2 linked regions of the Homo sapiens genome follow. The protein of the gene in region 1 interacts with the protein of each later gene in a pairwise test. Each region holds a gene or a part of one and is shown in the gene's direction. Other genes may lie near its edges.

Evidence for each region. Proteins that work in one complex are often made in the same cells at the same time.
Region 2: the proteins of SF1 (region 1) and PSMA3 interact in binary tests that used the Homo sapiens proteins (3 or more experiments, as listed by UniProt).

What each region holds. Positions count from the first base shown.
Region 1 is NC_000011.10:64,775,022-64,783,903, reverse strand, and holds the start of SF1 (splicing factor 1), read left to right. Parts: upstream 1-5,361; 5' UTR 5,362-5,511; coding exon 5,512-5,542; coding exon of another isoform or gene 5,543-5,917; intron 5,918-6,142; exon of another isoform or gene 6,143-6,405; intron 6,406-7,277; coding exon 7,278-7,406; intron 7,407-8,882. UniProt on the Homo sapiens protein: Necessary for the ATP-dependent first step of spliceosome assembly. Binds to the intron branch point sequence (BPS) 5'-UACUAAC-3' of the pre-mRNA. May act as transcription repressor.
Region 2 is NC_000014.9:58,247,105-58,256,032, forward strand, and holds part of PSMA3 (proteasome subunit alpha type-3), read left to right. Parts: intron 1-645; coding exon 646-728; intron 729-5,014; coding exon 5,015-5,138; intron 5,139-8,928. UniProt on the Homo sapiens protein: Component of the 20S core proteasome complex involved in the proteolytic degradation of most intracellular proteins. This complex plays numerous essential roles within the cell by associating with different regulatory particles.

The sequences.
Region 1 (8,882 bases):
CTCGCTCTGTTGCCCAGGCTGGAGTACAGTGGCGTGATCTCAGCTCACTGCAAGCTCTGCCTCCCGGGTTCACGCCATTCTCCTGCCTCAGCCTCCTGAGTAGCTGGGACTACAGGCACCTGCCACCACACTCAGCTATTTTTTTTTTTGTATTTTTAGTAGAGATGGGGTTTCACCGTGTTAGCCAGGATGGTCTCAATCTCCTGACCTCATGATCTGCCTGCCTCGGCCTCCCAAAGTGCTGGGATTACAGGTGTGAGCCACCGCACCCAGCCTTTTTTTTTTTTTTTTTTTTTTTTTTTTGAGACAGGGTCTCCCTCTGTCACTCAGGCTTCAGTGCAGTGGTGTGATCACAGCTTATTGCAGCCTCAAACTCTTTGGGGTCAAACAATCCTCCTGCCTCAGCCTCCCAAGTAGCTGGAACTACAGGCACACATCACGCTCAGCTGATTATTATTATTTTTGTTTCTGTAGAGACATTCTCCCTATGTTGCCCAGGCTGGTTTCGAACTCCTGGCCTCAAGCAATCCTCCTGCCTTGCCTTCCCAAAGTGCTGAGATTACAAGTGTGAGCCACTGCACCCAGCCCTTGGTGCATTTCTCAATGCCTATAGTTATATAATGTTGCAAAAATGGAATCATGTAATACATTTGTTAAGCGTATGAAGCATTTTTTTTTTAACTTTGGATTTTTAGGCTGGGTTTGGTGGCTCACGCCTGTAATCCCAGCACTTTGGGAGGCTGAGGCGGGCGAATCACTTGAGATCAGGAGTTTGAGACCAGCCTGGCCAACATGGTGAAACCCCGTCTCTACTAAAAATACAAAAATTAGCCAAGCATGGTGGCGCATGCCTGTAATCCGAGCTACTCTGGAGGCTGAGTCACGAGAATCGCTTGAACCCAGGAGGAGGAGGTTGCAGTGAGCCAAGATCATGCCACTGCACTCTGGTCTGGGTGACAGAGCAAGACTCCATCTCATAAGAAAAAAAAAAAAAAAAGTTGGATGTTTAAGATGTGTTGGGCAACTTCCAGCCGCCCATTTCACTCTGCAATAGAGCATGTGCTGTGTATCCTTCTGTAGCCTTTGTTATGCTCAGATAATCATATGCAAACATGCACACATCTGTATGGGGTTTGTGTTACAAAAACAAAGCCATGTCATATGTATTTCTTTGTTAACACAGAACAGTAGTTACTTTAGGTTGGTTGGTATGAATTAACAGCTTTTCAAAGCTGCCTAATATTCTAGGTTATGGGTTTTCCAATTCAGTCGTTCATATATTGATGGAAATTCACTCTGTTTGCCCATTTTTACCACTACAAACAATGCTGCAGTAAATGCAGAAGACTTTGAAAACATTATATAATCACATGGCTTGTTTGGGGGCAGATTCCCAGGAGTGGGATATTGGATCGAAAGGGTTTATGTTTTCTTTCTTTTGAGACAGAGTCTCACTCTGTCGCCCAATCACAGCTCACTTCTGCCTTTACCTCCTGGGCTCAAGGGATCCTCCCACCTCAGCTTCACAAGTAGCTGTGAGTACAGGTGCATATTTTTTTATTTTTTGAAAGGGGGAACAATTTTAATAGACAACAGAATGCTTTCTAAAAGATTAACGATAGTAGGTGTTAGCACATTTATGTTCTGCTATTTTCATTTATTTTGAGATTCCTCATTATCACCTTAATTTGTATTTCCCTTATAGGCAGTGTCTAAATACTGGTAAATAAATTAGCTAGTCTCAGTCGCACAAACTCAGCACAGTCTAAGGTGGTACTGCTATAACAGAATCCCTGAGACTGGGTAATTTATTTATTTGAGACAGGGTCTTGCTCTGTTGCTCAGGCTGGATTGCAGTGGCGTGATCATAGCTCATTGCAGCCTTGATCTCCTGGGCTCAAGTAATCCTCCTGCTTCAGCCTCTTGTGTAGCTGGGACTATAGACATGGACCACCATGACCAGCATTTTTTTTTTATTTTTTATTTTTTTAGTAGATGTTGCCCAGGCTGGTCACAAACTTCTGAGCTCAAGAGATCCTCCCACCTCAGACTCTCAAAGTGCTGGGATTACAGGCATTAGCCACCACACCCAGTCTGGGTAATTTATAAAGAATAGAGATTTCTGGCTGGGCACGGTGGCTCACGCCTATAATCCCAGCAGTTTGGGAGGCCAAGGTGGGTGGATCACCTGAGGTAAGGAGTTCGAGACCAGCCTGGCCAACATGGTGAAACCCTGTCTCTATTAAAAATACAAAAAATTAGCCAGGCATAGTGGCGGCACCTGTAATCCCAACTACTTGGGAGGCTGAGGCAGGAGATTCATGTTGGCCAGGCTGGTCTCGAACTCCTGACCTCAGGTGATCCACCCACCTCGGCCTCCCAAAGTGTTGGAGCCACCGCGCCTGGATGGAGATTAAGTTTCTAACACATGAGCTTTGGGGGACACATTCAAACCTGTCCACCTAAAGTAATCAAAAGGGTCAGAATCTAATTTCAATAGTTTATTCAAGCACAAAACATGAGGGTGGACTACCTGGAAACACCGACTCCAAATGAATGGAGTCAGTGTTTCGAAGTAGAGAAGTTAAGGTTTCATTTACACACACAAAGGCAGAGGAGTTTTAGGATTACATTCTTCATATATGGTCAGTGCGTACTTACAGTAATTTGGTTATAGGCCGAGTGCAGTGGTCCACTCCTGTAATCCCAGCACTTTGGGAGGCCGAGGCGGGCAGATCACCTGAGGTCAGGAGTTCAAGACCAGCCTGGCCAACATGGTGAAATTCCATCTTTACAAAAATGTAACAATTAGCTGGGCATGATGGCAGGTGGCTGTAATCCCGGCTACTCAGGAGGCTGAGGTGGGAGAATCGCTTGAATCTGGGAGGCAGAGGGTGCAGTGAGCCGAGATTGTGCCATTGCACTCCAGCCTGGGCGACAGAGCCAGACTCTGTCTCAAATTGAAATAATAATAATAAATAATTTGGTTGTAAGCAGTGTTTCTTTTTGGGAGGCATACATTTAACATTTTTTACAGAGGGTGTAATAGTCATGGGTTTGCTGTCATCTGGTCTAAGTAAAGCAGGACAACAAAAGGGAAGTTATCTATAAGAAGGGTCATTAAGAAGGCAGCAGGTTTTTGTCCCATGTTTAATTCTCTCCAATAATTGTACAGAACAAGAAAAACAAGCAGGTCTAATTTATTATCTCAGAAAAAATTATAACCATACATGGCTGAGATCACAGTCACCTCTCTCTCCAGGTTTCAAGTGTTGTGGGGGTTCCAACATCTTTTCTATTTATTTTAAAAAACCACAGCAGAGGGGTTGTGCACCCTTTCATATTTCTTGGCTATTTGGATTTGTTCTTCTGAGACATGTCCATTCCTATTTTTTGCTCATTTTCTATTGTTTTTGCCTTTTTTCTAATTAGTTTTTAAGATGTATTTGTATATTACAGGTATTGGCTCTTTATCATGTATGGCAAATATTTTTTCCTCATCTATCATTGTCTCTTGACTTTTATCAGTGTTAATTTTCGGGGTAATCAAGTATATCTTTTTACAGTTTGAGGTTCCTGTCTTTGCAGTCTCTCAACCCCTAGAATACCCTTATAGTCTCCTAAATTATATTCTAAATGTTTTGTTGTTTAAATTTAAGATTCTACGCCATTTATCAACGAAATCATCTTTTCCTGATTGAAATAAAATACTACATTTGTGGTATTTCCGGATTCTGTTGCACTAATGTGTCTTTCCTACCAACAATATCATATTGTTTTATTATTGTGGTTTTTTGTTTTTGAGACGGAGTCTCATGCTGTTGCCCAGGCTGGAGTACAGTGGTGCGATCTCAGCTCACTACACCTCCGCCTCCTGGGTTCAAGCAATTCTCCTGCCTCAGCCTCCTGAGAAGCTGGGATTATAGGCGTCTGCCACCACGCTCGGCTAATTTTTGTACTTTTAGTAGAGACGGGGGTTTCACCGTGTTGGTCAGGTTGGTCTCGAACTCCTGACCTCAGGTGATCCCCCCGCCTTGGCCTCCCAGTGCCTTGGCACTGGCCTATTGTGTTTTATATACTATGTTTGTCATCTGGAAAGGCAAGCTCCTGCTCCGTCTTGTAAAGTTTTCCCAGTACTGTAGTAGTTATTTTTATTTTTATTTTTGACAGTCTCGCTCTGTCACCCAGGCTGAAGTGCAGTGGCCCCATCTCGGCTCACTGCAACCTCCGCCTCCCGGGTTCAAGCGATTCTCTTGCCTCATCCTCCTGGGAAGCTGGGATTGCAGGAGTGCACCACTACACCCAACTAATTTTTGTATTTTTCGTAGAGACGGGGTTTCGCCATGTTGGTCAGGCTGGTCTCGACCTTCTGACCTTGTGATTCGCCCGCCTCGGCCTGTCAAAGTGCTGGGATTACAGGCGTGAGCCACCGCGCCCGGCCGTAGTTATTGTTTTATACGATTTTAAGATCATTTAATTAAATCCTCTGAACTCCGTGGAGATTCCAATAGAAGTGTGTATTTGTAATTTTTGAACTGACAACCTTCTGTTACCTTTCATCTAATATGTTGTTGCATCAGTTCAAATACTGTTTTAAATCCTTCGATAAGTCGTCTCTATTCGTAGCTTTTTGGGTCACTTTTTTTTTTTTTTTTTTTTTCCAAAAAAACAGGAAGTCTTTTTACCTGCAGCGTCAACTGAGCCGGTTTTCCGGCGCGCGCCAGCCCCTCCCCTGCTCCCGCCCCAAGGTTCTGCGTTACCATGGGAACAAAGGTTGACGTCACTTAGGGCTTCCTTGCTGGACCCAAGGGTCGATGGTGAAGGGAGACGGGTGGAGAGGCGGTTTTGCTCCATCTACGCATGCGCACTTCCTGCTCCAGGACTCCCCCGCCGTAAATCTCGTTCCGGCTGGGCCTTTTCCGCCGCGACTCTCGCTTAATCCCGGAGAAACTGCCCCCTGGGGGAGGGGAGTAGAAAAAGGCTGGAACCAGCGACAGCCAATCCCGCGACACTACAACGCAGGCGAGATTGATTGAGTCCACCACCGCAGCCAATGAGAGAGCTCGCCGTCGCTCCGTCATAGAGTTCGCCCCACCCCATCCCCTCCTTTCTGGACTCGGAGCTCAGTTCACGCAGTAACAAATGAAGTGCGCGCTGCGACACCTCCCAGCCCACCGAACTCCGCCGCCATTTCCTCGCTTGGCCTAACGGTTCGGCCAATCCCAGCGCGCATCAAGAAGGACTGAGGCTCCGCCAATCGGAGGCCGCCGATTTCGACCCTTCGCCTCGGCCCGGCCCAATCCAGGCCCCGGCCCCGCCGCCCCCGGCCCGCCCCCGCGGTGCCCTCTCTCCTCCCTCTTTGTGCGTCTCGCGCCGCCGCCGCCCGCCGCGTGAGAGGACGGGCTCCGCGCGCTCCGGCAGCGCATTCGGGTCCCCTCCCCCCGGGAGGCTTGCGAAGGAGAAGCCGCCGCAGAGGAAAAGCAGGTGCCGGTGCCTGTCCCCGGGGGCGCCATGGCGACCGGAGCGAACGCCACGCCGTTGGGTAAGCTGGGCCCCCCCGGGCTGCCCCCGCTCCCCGGGCCCAAAGGAGGCTTCGAGCCGGGCCCTCCGCCTGCACCCGGGCCTGGGGCGGGGCTGCTGGCTCCCGGGCCGCCGCCGCCCCCGCCCGTGGGCTCGATGGGGGCCCTGACCGCGGCCTTCCCCTTCGCGGCGCTGCCTCCGCCGCCTCCGCCGCCGCCCCCTCCGCCTCCCCAGCAGCCGCCGCCGCCTCCACCGCCACCGTCCCCCGGCGCCTCGTACCCGCCGCCGCAGCCGCCCCCTCCGCCGCCGCTCTACCAGCGCGTGTCGCCGCCGCAGCCGCCGCCACCCCAGCCGCCGCGTAAGGACCAGCAGCCGGGCCCGGCCGGCGGCGGAGGAGGTGAGTCGGGCCGAGAGAGCGCGAGAGGCGTCGCGCGGACGGGCCCGGCCGCCTGAGGGGCGCGCGGCGGCGGCGACGGCGGCTGCACGCGGCAGGGGCGCGCGTGCGCGCACGGGGAGGCCCGGGCGGAGGCGCCCCTGGGCGCGCGCGGCCTGGTTCTAGGGCCTCGAGTGCGCACGCGCGCTGTGGGGGGAGGGCTGGGCGGGCGGGAGGCGCTCTGTGCGCAGACGCAGTGAGGTGGCCGGGCTGTGCGGCGCAACTGTATAGACTGGGGGCCCACTATTGCTGTCCAGTCCGCTGGTGTCGGGAACAGGGGTGGCGGGTGTTCAGCGCTGGACGGGGTGCTAGCTGTGAATGCCAGCAGGGCGTGAAAGCCTCACCTGATGACGTGCAGCGACTCCCTTCTGGTCTTGAGGAACCAGAATGGGAACCGTACCAAGGATAGCTCCTCTGCTTCTACAGCAAGGCAGGGTTTTCATCCGGGAGAGGTTGGCATGCTTCAGATGATGGTTGGGTCTGATCTTTCTTGGTCTCTTTTGGGGAGAGAATTTTAGTTTGTTTTTTTTTTTAAATCTGTTCAGTATGTTTAGATCTCAGTCTGATCGGCTGCCCTGTCGCTTTGTTTTAAAAAGCTTTTCCCTCTGATCCTGTACCCCTTGGGAAATAGAAGGACTCTTTTGTGGCAAATGTAGGGAGTTTCTGCCTATGTACGGGGAAAGGAGAACTTGGCTGCTATTGTATAGGTTGTTGAATTTTTGATAGATCCTTTTAAGAGTTCAGACCCTCAGTGTCCAACTGGCCAGGAAAACTGAATGCTGATCTTGGCTAAACTTATGAAGACAAAGGTGATCTTGTTGAAGAATTGGGCTTTTCCCACTTGGTAGGGTGTAACTAGGTTTAGTTGTGGTCCGGCCTCTCGTACAAAAGTGACTGGTGAGGGGAGTGGAGGTGGGTGGAGCCCCCAGTCCCATCAGGACTGCTTTACAAATCTATGATTCTTCAGTGTATTTTTGTCTCCCCTGGGGATTTCAGAGCACTCATGGTTGATGTAGTATCTATCTAACACTCTCTGCAGCCATATGCATTAAGATTACCACGTTTATATATCTGACAGTTTTTCTAGACAAAAGAAGGTGAAATGTTAACTTGCCTGACCAAGGACCACATACCCTTGTAGTGGCCATAAGCTTTAAATCTCTGATCTCTGAGGTTTGTTTTCTGTTTTTTTAATGTTTAAGTTTTAGGTTAAGCTCTCAGCTTCACAGTCTGCTGAGTTTCTGTGTAGTACCTTAAATACCCTTAGCTGTCTGTTGATAACTACTTGTATTTACATCGGATGGATTTTGTCTCTGCCTTTTAGACTTCCCAAGTAAGAAGCGGAAGAGGAGCCGCTGGAACCAAGACACAATGGAACAGAAGACAGTGATTCCAGGAATGCCTACAGTTATTCCCCCTGGACTTACTCGAGAACAAGAAAGAGCTTATATAGGTAAATATACGTTCTGCATCCAAATGCACTTTGAGATTGTTACGATTTATTCTGAGCAAGATCTGCATTTTTTGAAAGTTTGAGATTGTAGTTATCTTTTTTGAGATGAGATACTTTCACGACTTTGGTATCATCTGTCAGTTTTTGCCCAGTGAGTTCTGCATTTGCAGCTCCTTGTTTTGGTCTGTTCGTAACTGCAGTGTTCTCCATGAGTATCAGGAAGGTAGGGTTTCACTTAGGAGTAAGAACAGTCCCCAGTCCAGCAGCCACCCTTTTCAGCTGCTGTTCATTGCCAGTTGATGAGGTGAGTGTCATCTGCCTCTCTGGACAGGCCCCAGTGGAGAACACCGCAGGTACTGTAAACCAAGTACTTTTCACAGCGTGGCCTTTCACCATAATTTTATATTTCTCCCCCTAAAATGTGGTCTTTTACTTTTTATAGGTACTTTCTGAAAAAAAAAAAATGACAAAAAGTGGTTCTGAAAGTGTGTTTACAATTTACCCCTTTTTATTTTCTTGAATTTAAGAGTTTAACCTTCCCTTCAACATCTTTTCTGGTTTGGTCTATGGAGAGCTGTCTTAAAATGAAGGCTCTTGTATTTACTTTTAAAGAACTCTGCTGGGAAAGGGATATTGCATGGATATGGAATGAAGTGCTAGGATAAAAAGGTTTTATTTGCTGGGAGGTTTTGAGAATTAATGACTATCCACAGTGGAATTGAAATTAACCTCAAAATTGCTTTTTTGGAAAAAAAAGTTTTTAATGCAAGTTTTATCTTTATATACCTGTGCAGCTGTCTCAAAAAAGTTCACTTTATAAACATTTCCTACTAACCAAATAAACATCCCCTTTGGAGGAAATTCGGGCAAAGACCTCCTAAACCTACGAGGCTGTGGCCTTCACAACCAAAAAGCTTCAAGGCCAGCATGTTACTACTTTTGAGGGTCTTAATTTCCTGTTTTTTAGACTGCTGAGAATTTTGAGGCGTTGGAATTGTCTGTCTCCTTTCACAGTACTACTAATACTTGTTCTTTCCCCTACTGTTCCTGTCTACTCCCACCCATTCCATTGTGTCTCATATTAGACTAGTCTGGGTCTTTACATCCTTGTGAAATGCCCCTAGTGGAGTGATATCCCAAGAACACAAGCATACTTAGAAGATGGGAAGAGCACAAATTCTTTATATCTCCATTTCTGTTTTTGTGGAGGGCTAGTTAGTTCACTGGGCCCTAAGGACTATTTATAGCTATAATCAAAATAGAATCAAAGGAGAGGTGTAGTTCTCCACAGAAGAGAATGACCCTTTTTATTTAGATCAGGCCCCACATCTCCATAGTCAGCTAGGAAGACTCACCTTCTCCCCTCAGTGAAGGTGACTTTCACCTCGAGTTGTTGAGCTTAATACTCAACTGCAAAGTCAGAACTTTTTAGGCATAAAGGAGCTTGGGGAACCATGTGTCTTACTACTTTTCTGT
Region 2 (8,928 bases), on another chromosome or scaffold:
TTTTCCTTCATATCTTAAATGGCTAGCTCCTTGTCATTTAGGTTTGACTCAGCCTAAATATAACTGCCCAGAAGGCCTTCCCTGATGATGTAGTCTGTAGTAGTTCATTGCTTTACTCTTTTATTTTCATCTTAGTGCCTTTTCTGATTTACTGCTGTACCTCTAGCACCTAGATTCATGTCTGATGTGAAACTGAAGGACTTAATGAATGAGTATACCTTTGTATTCCGTATAGTAACATAATAGATACTCATTAACTGCTTGGTGAATGCCGAATGATTTGTTTGAAGTCTTTTAGTTTGTTAATGGCAGAGTTATCGTTACAAATTTAAATGTTCGAACTCCAGTGCTGGTTCTACTGCCCCATATTAATCTTTTTCAAAAATGAGTTTTGTAGTCTGGGTGAAAAGTGTTCTGACTTCACCTGGGACCTGTATCCATTACTCTTCAATAGCTGAAATCGAAGGTATATAGCTTTATCTTAGCTACTGTTGCTGCTCTGACAAGTTTCCCTTTCCTCTCTTGAAAGCAAGGTCTTTGTTGGGATATAACAGGTTCCTGATGTTTCAGCCATTTAGAGGGGAAGAAACTGTATGGTCATTACTGCCAAAGATACAAGCTTACTGTTGCCCTTTTCTCCTTAAGTATGACCTGTCAGCCTCTACATTCTCTCCTGACGGAAGAGTTTTTCAAGTTGAATATGCTATGAAGGCTGTGGAAAATAGTAGGTAAGAAACATTTAACCAGGTATTACATGTCTCCTTTTATTTTATATATTTTTGGCGATTAGGCTTTGTTATGTTACTTTGGTACAAATTAGTATATGTCCCCAAATCTCAATTTATTCATTTCCAGATCTCTTTCTAGGCCAGATGCTTTCCATGAGCCCCAGTCCTATATTTCTCGTTGATTCCAGGATTATCCACTTAGATTTTCCATGTTGCAGAGTGTATAAATCACATTCATTATCATCTTTTTGTTTTCCATTTTCAAATTCTTGATTTGTATCATAGGCTTCCTCAGCCATTAGGTTTGTGACCTTGTTATTTTTTATTTCTCATACATCTTGTGTTTTAAATGTCTTATGCAATTAGTCACATGTTCGATTCAGCAAAGATTTTTTCTATGTCTGTTTCTGTTTTGAGACCTGAGTCTCACTCTGTCACCTAGGCTAGAGTGCAGTGGCACGATCTTGGCTCACTGCAACCTCCGCCTCCTGGGTTCAAGTGATTCTCTTGCCTCAGCCTCCCCAGTAGCTGGGATTACAGGCATGTGCCACCATGCCCGGATAATTTTTGCATTTTTAGTAGAGACGGGGTTTTGCCACGTTGGCCAGGCTGGTCTCAAACCCCTGGCCTCAAGTGATCCGCTCACCTCGGACTCCCAGAGAGTAGCCCCAGTCCTATATTTCTCGTTGATTACAAAGAGCTGGGATTATAGGCGTGAGTCACTGTGGCCAGCCTAAATACGATTTTAAAAAGTCAGATTTATGCAAATATGAGGAAATATCTTTAAAAAATTGAAACCTTAAAAACGAATGTGTTTTTTCCTGAATGAAGAAAAAATGCAGCCGGGCGTGGTGGCTCACGCCTGTAATCCCAGCACTTTGGGAGGCTGAGGCGGGCGGATCACCTGAGGTCAGGAGTTTGAGACCAGCCTGGCCAACATGGTAAAACCCTGTCTCTACTAAAAAATAACAAAATACAAAAATTAGCCGGGTGTGATGGCACACGTCGTAGTTTCAGCTACTTGGGAGGCTGAGGCAGGAGAATCACTTGAACCTGGCAGGTGGACGTTGCAGTGAGCCAAGATTGCACCACTGCACTCCAGCCTAAGCAACAGAGACTCTGTCTCAGAAAAAGCTAGGATTTTAAAAATGAGACGTAGTTTCACTCTTGTTGCCCAGGCTGGAGTGCAATGGCACAATGTTGGCTCACCGCAACCTCTGCCTCCCAGGTTCAAGCAATTCTCTCAGCCTCCCAAGTAGCTGGGATTACAGACATGCACCACCATGGCCCGCTAATTTTGTATTTTTAGTAGAGACAGGGTTTCTCCATGTTGGTCAGGCTGGTCTCGAACTCCTGACCTCAGGTGATCCGCCTGCCTCAGCCTCCCAAAGTGCTGGGATTACAGGCATGAGCCACGGCGCCCGGCCTAAAAGTTCTTCTTTTTAAAGATGTATTAACCTGTCCTTTGATACTACACCCAAAGTGAACAAATGCTAGTTTCTTATTTTAAAAAAAAATGTTTATTTATTTTAAAAAAGAGGCATGGTCTCACTCACTATGTTGCCTCGGCTGGTCTTGAACTTTTGGGCTCAAGTAATCCTCCTGCCTTGGCCTCCCAAAGTGATGGGATTACAGGTGTGAGTCACTGCGCCTGGCTTATTATTCCTTTTTTTTAAAAAAAACTTTTTTTGGGGGCAGGACATAGGATCTCGCTTTGTCACCCAGGCTGGAGTGCAGTGGTGTGATTACAGCTTACTGCAGACTCGACCTCCTGGTCTCGAGCTATTCTCCTCCCTCAGCCCCACAAGGTAGTTGGGACTACAGGCATGTGCCACCACGCCTGGCAAATTTTTTGTAGAGACAGGGTTTCACCATGTGGCCCAGGCTGGTCTCAAACTCCTGAGCCCAAGTGATCCGCCTGCTTAGGCTTCCCAAAGTGCTGGTATTATAGGTGTGAGCCACCGCACCCAGCCGAAGTCTTTGAATTCTTATGAAAATAATTTTGACCTCGAAGACTGCCTGAAAGGATTTCAGAGATTTCCAGATTTTCAAGAATGTTTTAAACAGTGTGGAAGATGTTGAGTTGAGATAATTAAGACAGGCTTCCTGCTGGGCGTGAGCCACGCCTGTAATCCTAGCACTTTGGGAGGCTGAGGCAGGTGTATTGCTTGAGCTCAGGAGTTCGAGACCAGCCTGGGCAACATGGTGAAATCCCGTCTCTACTGAAAATACAAAAAATTAGCCGGGCATGGCAGTGCGCGCCTGTAATCCCAGCTACTTGGGAGGTTGAGACAGGAGAATCACTTGAACCCGGGAGATGGAGGTTGCAGTGAGCCAAGATCACGCCACTGTACTCCAGCTGGGGCAACAGAGCGAGACTCCATCTCCAAAAAAAAAAAAAAAATAGGGACAGAGTTTCAAAATGTTGGCCTGGCTGGTCTTGAACTCCTGGCCTCAGGCAAGCCTTTCACTTGGGCCTTCCAAAGTCCTGAGGTTACATTCTGACCTGTACTGCTTGAGTTCAACTAAGTTTGCAAACCTTTTGGGGAAATTCATTTAAATAGGCAGTAGTGAAGAGGAAATGTATTCTAGCATCCAGGATAACCTCAAAGACATGGAATCAAAAATGAACATGAGGTTTTTGAAGGTTGACAGTGAGGTAACCAGTAGAGTACAGAATTTATAACAGGAAATTGAATATGCTCAGGGGGTTCTGCCAGACCCTTAGGAGTTTAAACTTGCAAGGGGAGCCATGGAAGACACCTAAAGTGTTGGGGAAGGAGTGTCAGAAATTCTTAGAAAATTTGTTGTGTGCATCTGTTGTTCATTTTTCTGGGAGGAAATGCCATAGTTTCATCAGATTTTAAGAGGCCTGTGAATAACACAATTCCCCTGCTTTTTAGATTGTGGATCCCTTTTTAGATTCTGACTATGGCAAAATGAAACACAGCTAGGAATTAGGCTGGTCTTAGATTAAACGGATTAGAGAAGTAGAAAAGATGGTGTAGTAATCTAGGCCTGAAATTATAAGGATCCCAATGCTGGTATAATTATTGTAAAGAAGTGGACATGAAGGAAATTTTGAAGAAAAAAATTAATAGTAAATAGAAGCTCAACATGGAGGATGTAGAGCTTGGTGATGCTATTATCCAAAACAGAGAAGTTGTGCCGGTAGTCCCAGCTACTGAGGCTGAGGTGAGAGGATTACTTGAGCCTCAGACTTCAATTCAATCTTGGGCAGCATGGCAAGACTCCATTTCTTTAAAATTAAAAAAAAGAAGAAAGAGAAAGTTGAGATAATTTTACCAGAAAACTGTACAATCAAGCATTGCTTATTTTGTCTCTATTGTTTCCGATCAGAACTACCTTTATCAAAAAGGAATAGAAGAATAAAGTGTAACACATTTTCATCTTGAAATGGCAACAAGTAATTTCTCCACATTTTACTTGAGGTTGTGTGTGTGTGTGTTTGAGACAGGGTCTCACTCTGTTGCACAGACTGGTGTGCAGTGGTGCAATCTTGGCTCACTGCAGCCACCACCTAACTGGGCTCAAGCAATCTCTCACCTCAGCCTCCCAGGTAGCTGGGACTACAGGCGTGTACCACCATGCCTGGCTAAGCCAGGTTTCGCCATGTTGCCCAGGCTCGTCTTGGACTCCTGGGCTTAAAAGATCCTCCTGCCTCAGCATCCCAAAGTGCTGAGATTACAGGTGTGAGCCACCATGCCTGGTCTTAAGAGGTTATTTTAAGATCTTTTTATTTTAAACAGTTGTAGCAGAACATATATTTTATTTTTATATACGTATTAGAAGCAATATGTTTATTATGGAAAAATTGGAAGAAAGAGATGAGCAAAAGGAAGAATAAATCATAATCCTTCTACCCAGAGCAGTCACTGTTAACTTTTTAGTTTGTATCTAACCTTTTATGTCTGTTATGTACCATTTTTAATGGACATGAATTTATGTCAACATTTGTTTATAACATGATTATCATAAGCCAGACACTGAGCCATATTGTGTTTCGTTAGCATCATTTTTATACTTACATATTAATATATTTTTAGTCAAATGATGTACTAGATTCTGGAGGGAGGGTCACATGATATTTATATGGATTTAATGTATTTATTACACTTTAGTGTGTTTTCTCTTCCTGGTTTTCAAATGTTTTAAGGTATTTGGCATGCCTTAAATGTTACTTATTTTGTTTTTTTGTTAAACTTAAGTTTATGAAGTTTCTTTTATTTTCAGTTAAAAAACTGATTTTCTTCTCCTTGTTTCAGTACAGCTATTGGAATCAGATGCAAAGATGGTGTTGTCTTTGGGGTAGAAAAATTAGTCCTTTCTAAACTTTATGAAGAAGGTTCCAACAAAAGACTTTTTAATGTTGATCGGCATGTTGGAATGGTAAGGTCATGTTTAAAATGTTCCTTTTTGTCTTGTCCAATTTCTTTTGAAGTAACTGATTGGAATAGATCACTGTGCAGTCACAAAAGTAATCAGAGCAAGTTACTGCATTTGTCCAGTTCACTGTCCAGTAGAAAGGCAGCATTCTCATAACCTTATTAGTGATGGGGGAAAAACCAAGTTGCTGAAAGAAGAGCAGGTGAGGGAGAGGGCTGGGGAGTATGCGTAGAAATGAGATCTTGGCAGCACACATTACTAATGAAGGTATATGCTTGAGAGGTGAAGAATCTTTAGCTTTCTGTATCTCTTGTGGGGATCACTGTCAAAGTAAAGATGCCATCAGATAGCGAACACCTTTATATAAGGTGGAACATCAGGAAAGGATGTTTAATGAAAAGGAAAAGTGAACACATCCATAATAGTTTCATAGGGCATCACTGAAATTAAGTTATTCATGCAGCTGGTATCTAAGTTATGAGTGACTAAATTGCAAGCCAAGCCATAGATACATGACTGGTATATACTAAAGTTACCCTACATAGATGGCAGACTTGGCTTAGTGAGAACCACTACTGAAAGAAAAAAAAAAAAAAGAATCAAATGATTCTAACCCTGCCACCTGAAAAGGAAAGGAAGAAAGGAGAATATCTCTATATTAGGTTTTATGCTGGGAGCTCTTTACATAAATTACCTTGTTTAATCTTGACAACCCAGTGAAGGTTATATCAATGTCATTTTCTTTTTTTTTTTTTTTTGGTTTGAGACAGAGTCTGGCTCTGTCACCCAGGCCGGAGTGCAGTGGCGCCATCTCAGCTTATTGCAGCCTCTGCCTCCTGGGTTCAAGCGATTCTCCTACCTCAGCCTCCCAAGTAGCTGGGACTACAGGTGCCCACTACCATGCCCAGCTAATTTTTATATTTTTAGTAAAGGCAGGGTTTCACCATGTTGGCCAGGCTGGTCTCGAACTCCTGACCTCAAGTGATCCATCTGCCCGCCTCAGCCTCCCAAAGTGCTGGGATTATAGGCGTGAGCCACTGCGCCCGGCCTAATGCCATTTTCACAGGTGAAAAAACAGATGCACAGCAAGTAAAGAAAAGCTGGGATTCAAACTTGGGTCTGCATGTTACTCAAGAGCCCTTTCTAAATGAAAAGACACCTTATATGACCCACATCGTTCAGCTGATAGCTTTCTTATATCTAAATGAGATTTAATGTTACACACAAACACAAAAAGTACTGGTAAAGTATAACCAGTAAACCATAAAGCTAATTTTTTTCTTCTTCAAAGATTATTTTATCTCAACAATATGTTTCTCCTGAACAGATTTTTTTATTTTGCTGCAAATGACAGGATTTTATTTTATTTTTTGAGATGGAGTCTCACTCTGTCATCCAGGAAGGAGTGCAATGGCGCGATCTCAGCTCACTGCAACCTCTGCCTCCCGGGTTCAAGCAATTCTCCTGCCTCAGACTCTCAAGTAGCTGGGATTACAGACATACGCCGCCACACCCAGCTAATTTTTGTATTTTTAGTAGAGACGGGGTTTCACCATGTTGGTCAGGCTGGTCTCGGACTCCTGAACTCCAGTGATCTACCCGCCTTGGCCTCCCAAAGTGCTGGGATTATAGGCGTGAGCCAGCGTGCCCAGCCTAGCATTTTATTCTTTTTAAAGGATGAATAGTATTCCATTGTGTATATATACATTTTCTTTTTACTGTTTTTTTGTTGTTGTTGTTGTACAGATTTTTCTCGTCACCCAGGTACTAAGCCTAGGACCCAATAGTTATTTTTTCTGATCCTCTTCCTCCTCCCACCCTCCACCCTCAAGTAGGCCCCATTGTCTGTTGTTCCTGTCTTTGTATCCATGAATTCTCATCATTTAGCTTCCACTTATAAGAGAGAACATGTGGTTTTTGGTTTTCTCTTCTTGTATTAGTTTGCTAAGAATAATGCTGAACAGATTTATTATTGCCAGTGAAACTGATATGTTTTGATGAAACTTGCTACATTGTAACCTAGCTAGTAGGAGGTGATCTTGTATTCTTTTATGTACTAGCAAAAGTTAATATTTTGAAAAAAATTATGCATGCATATATATATGTATGTACACACACACAGAGGTCTTGCTCTGTTGCCCAGGCTTGAGTGCAGTGGCATGATCATAGCTCACTGCAGCCTTGCGCTCCTGGGCTCAAGTGATTCTTCTGCCTCAGCCTCCCAAATAGCTGTGACTACAAGTGTGCCATCACACCTGGCTAATTTTTTAGTTTTTTTAAGAGATATGATCTTGCTGTGTTGCTCAGGCTGGTCTTGAACTCCTGGGCTCAAGCGATCCTCCCGCCTCAGCTTCTTGAGTTGCTGAGATTACAGGCATGAGCCAATGTGCCCTGTCAACATTAGACATTGAAGAGGGCTGGAGAAAATTAAGACTTAATATCCTCCCTCCTTCCACAGTTGTCATCTTCAAGTGATTTGAGAATTATATGACTTTACAGTAAGCTTTCTCTAAAGCAACAGAAGATTCTTTAAGTGATGTAACTTACTGGCATGGGTTACCTTGGGGAAGCTATTCTAAACACGCGTTTCCTTGTCTGCAAAACAAGAGTGATAATAGTACTTGGCACATACAGTTGTTGTGAGGTTAAAAATTATTATGCAAAATGCTTAACATGTAATGAGTGCTCAGTATCTCTTAGTAATTATCATTATTACTATTACTGGGTAGCGTAGGAAAAAAAGGCTATTAAAGATTGTGATACCACTTTTAAATTCTGTAACTGTCCTGGGCTAGAGGGTTTCAAAAACTTGGTTGGTTTATGGTACCTTAAGTGTCTCAGTAGTTTTTCTCATGGCTTCCCTAGGCCGAAAATACCTAATGGTTTCATTTATTAAGTATTTAGATCCAAAGAACTTAGTGTTTACATCCTAAAAACTTAGTAGCCGTTTTTTTTTTTTAAATACACACATAGTGAAAAATATTTTTATTTAAAAATTAAAATGTTTTATTTTAAGCAACCAAAATTTCTAGTATATACACTGCACAACCTCCCAAATTTGGATGTGGCCACTGTCATTTCCTGTTCCACACTGATTTTTGCACAGTACTTACTTTTTTTCACAGCAACCACTAACAGCCAAGCTTCTCAAAGATGTGGTGGCATTGAAAGGAATGTAGTAAAACGATCTAATGTTCAAACGGAACTACTTGGACATTTTTCTCCAAACTTAGAATGTGCCACACTAGGCCAGGTGCAGTGGCTCACACCTGTAATCCCAGCACTTTCGGAGGCCAAGGCGGGCGGATCACCTGAGGTCGAAAGTTCAAGACCAGCCTGACCAACATGGAGAAACCCTGTCTCTACTAAAAACACAAAAATTAGCCGGGCGTGGTGGCGCATGCCTGTACTCCCAGCTACTCGGGAGGCTGAGGCAGGAGAATCCCTTGAACCTGGGAGGTGGAGGTTGCGGTGAGCCGCGATTGCACCACTGTGCTCTAGCCTGGGCAACAAGAGCAAAACTCCATCTCAAAAAAAAAGATATGCCACACTAACATGTGATTTCACTGCAGTGCCTGAGGACCTCTCGGCACATACATAGTAACTGCAATTCTGTTTTTGTTTTTGTTTTTGTTTTGAGACAAAGTCTCATTCTGTTGCTCAGGCTGGAGTGTAGTGGCGTGATCTCGGCTCACTGCAGCCTCCGCCTCCCGAGTTCAAGTGATTCTTGTGGCTCAGCCTTGGGAGTAGGTAGGATTATAGGTGCCCGCCACCAAACCTGACTAATTTTTGT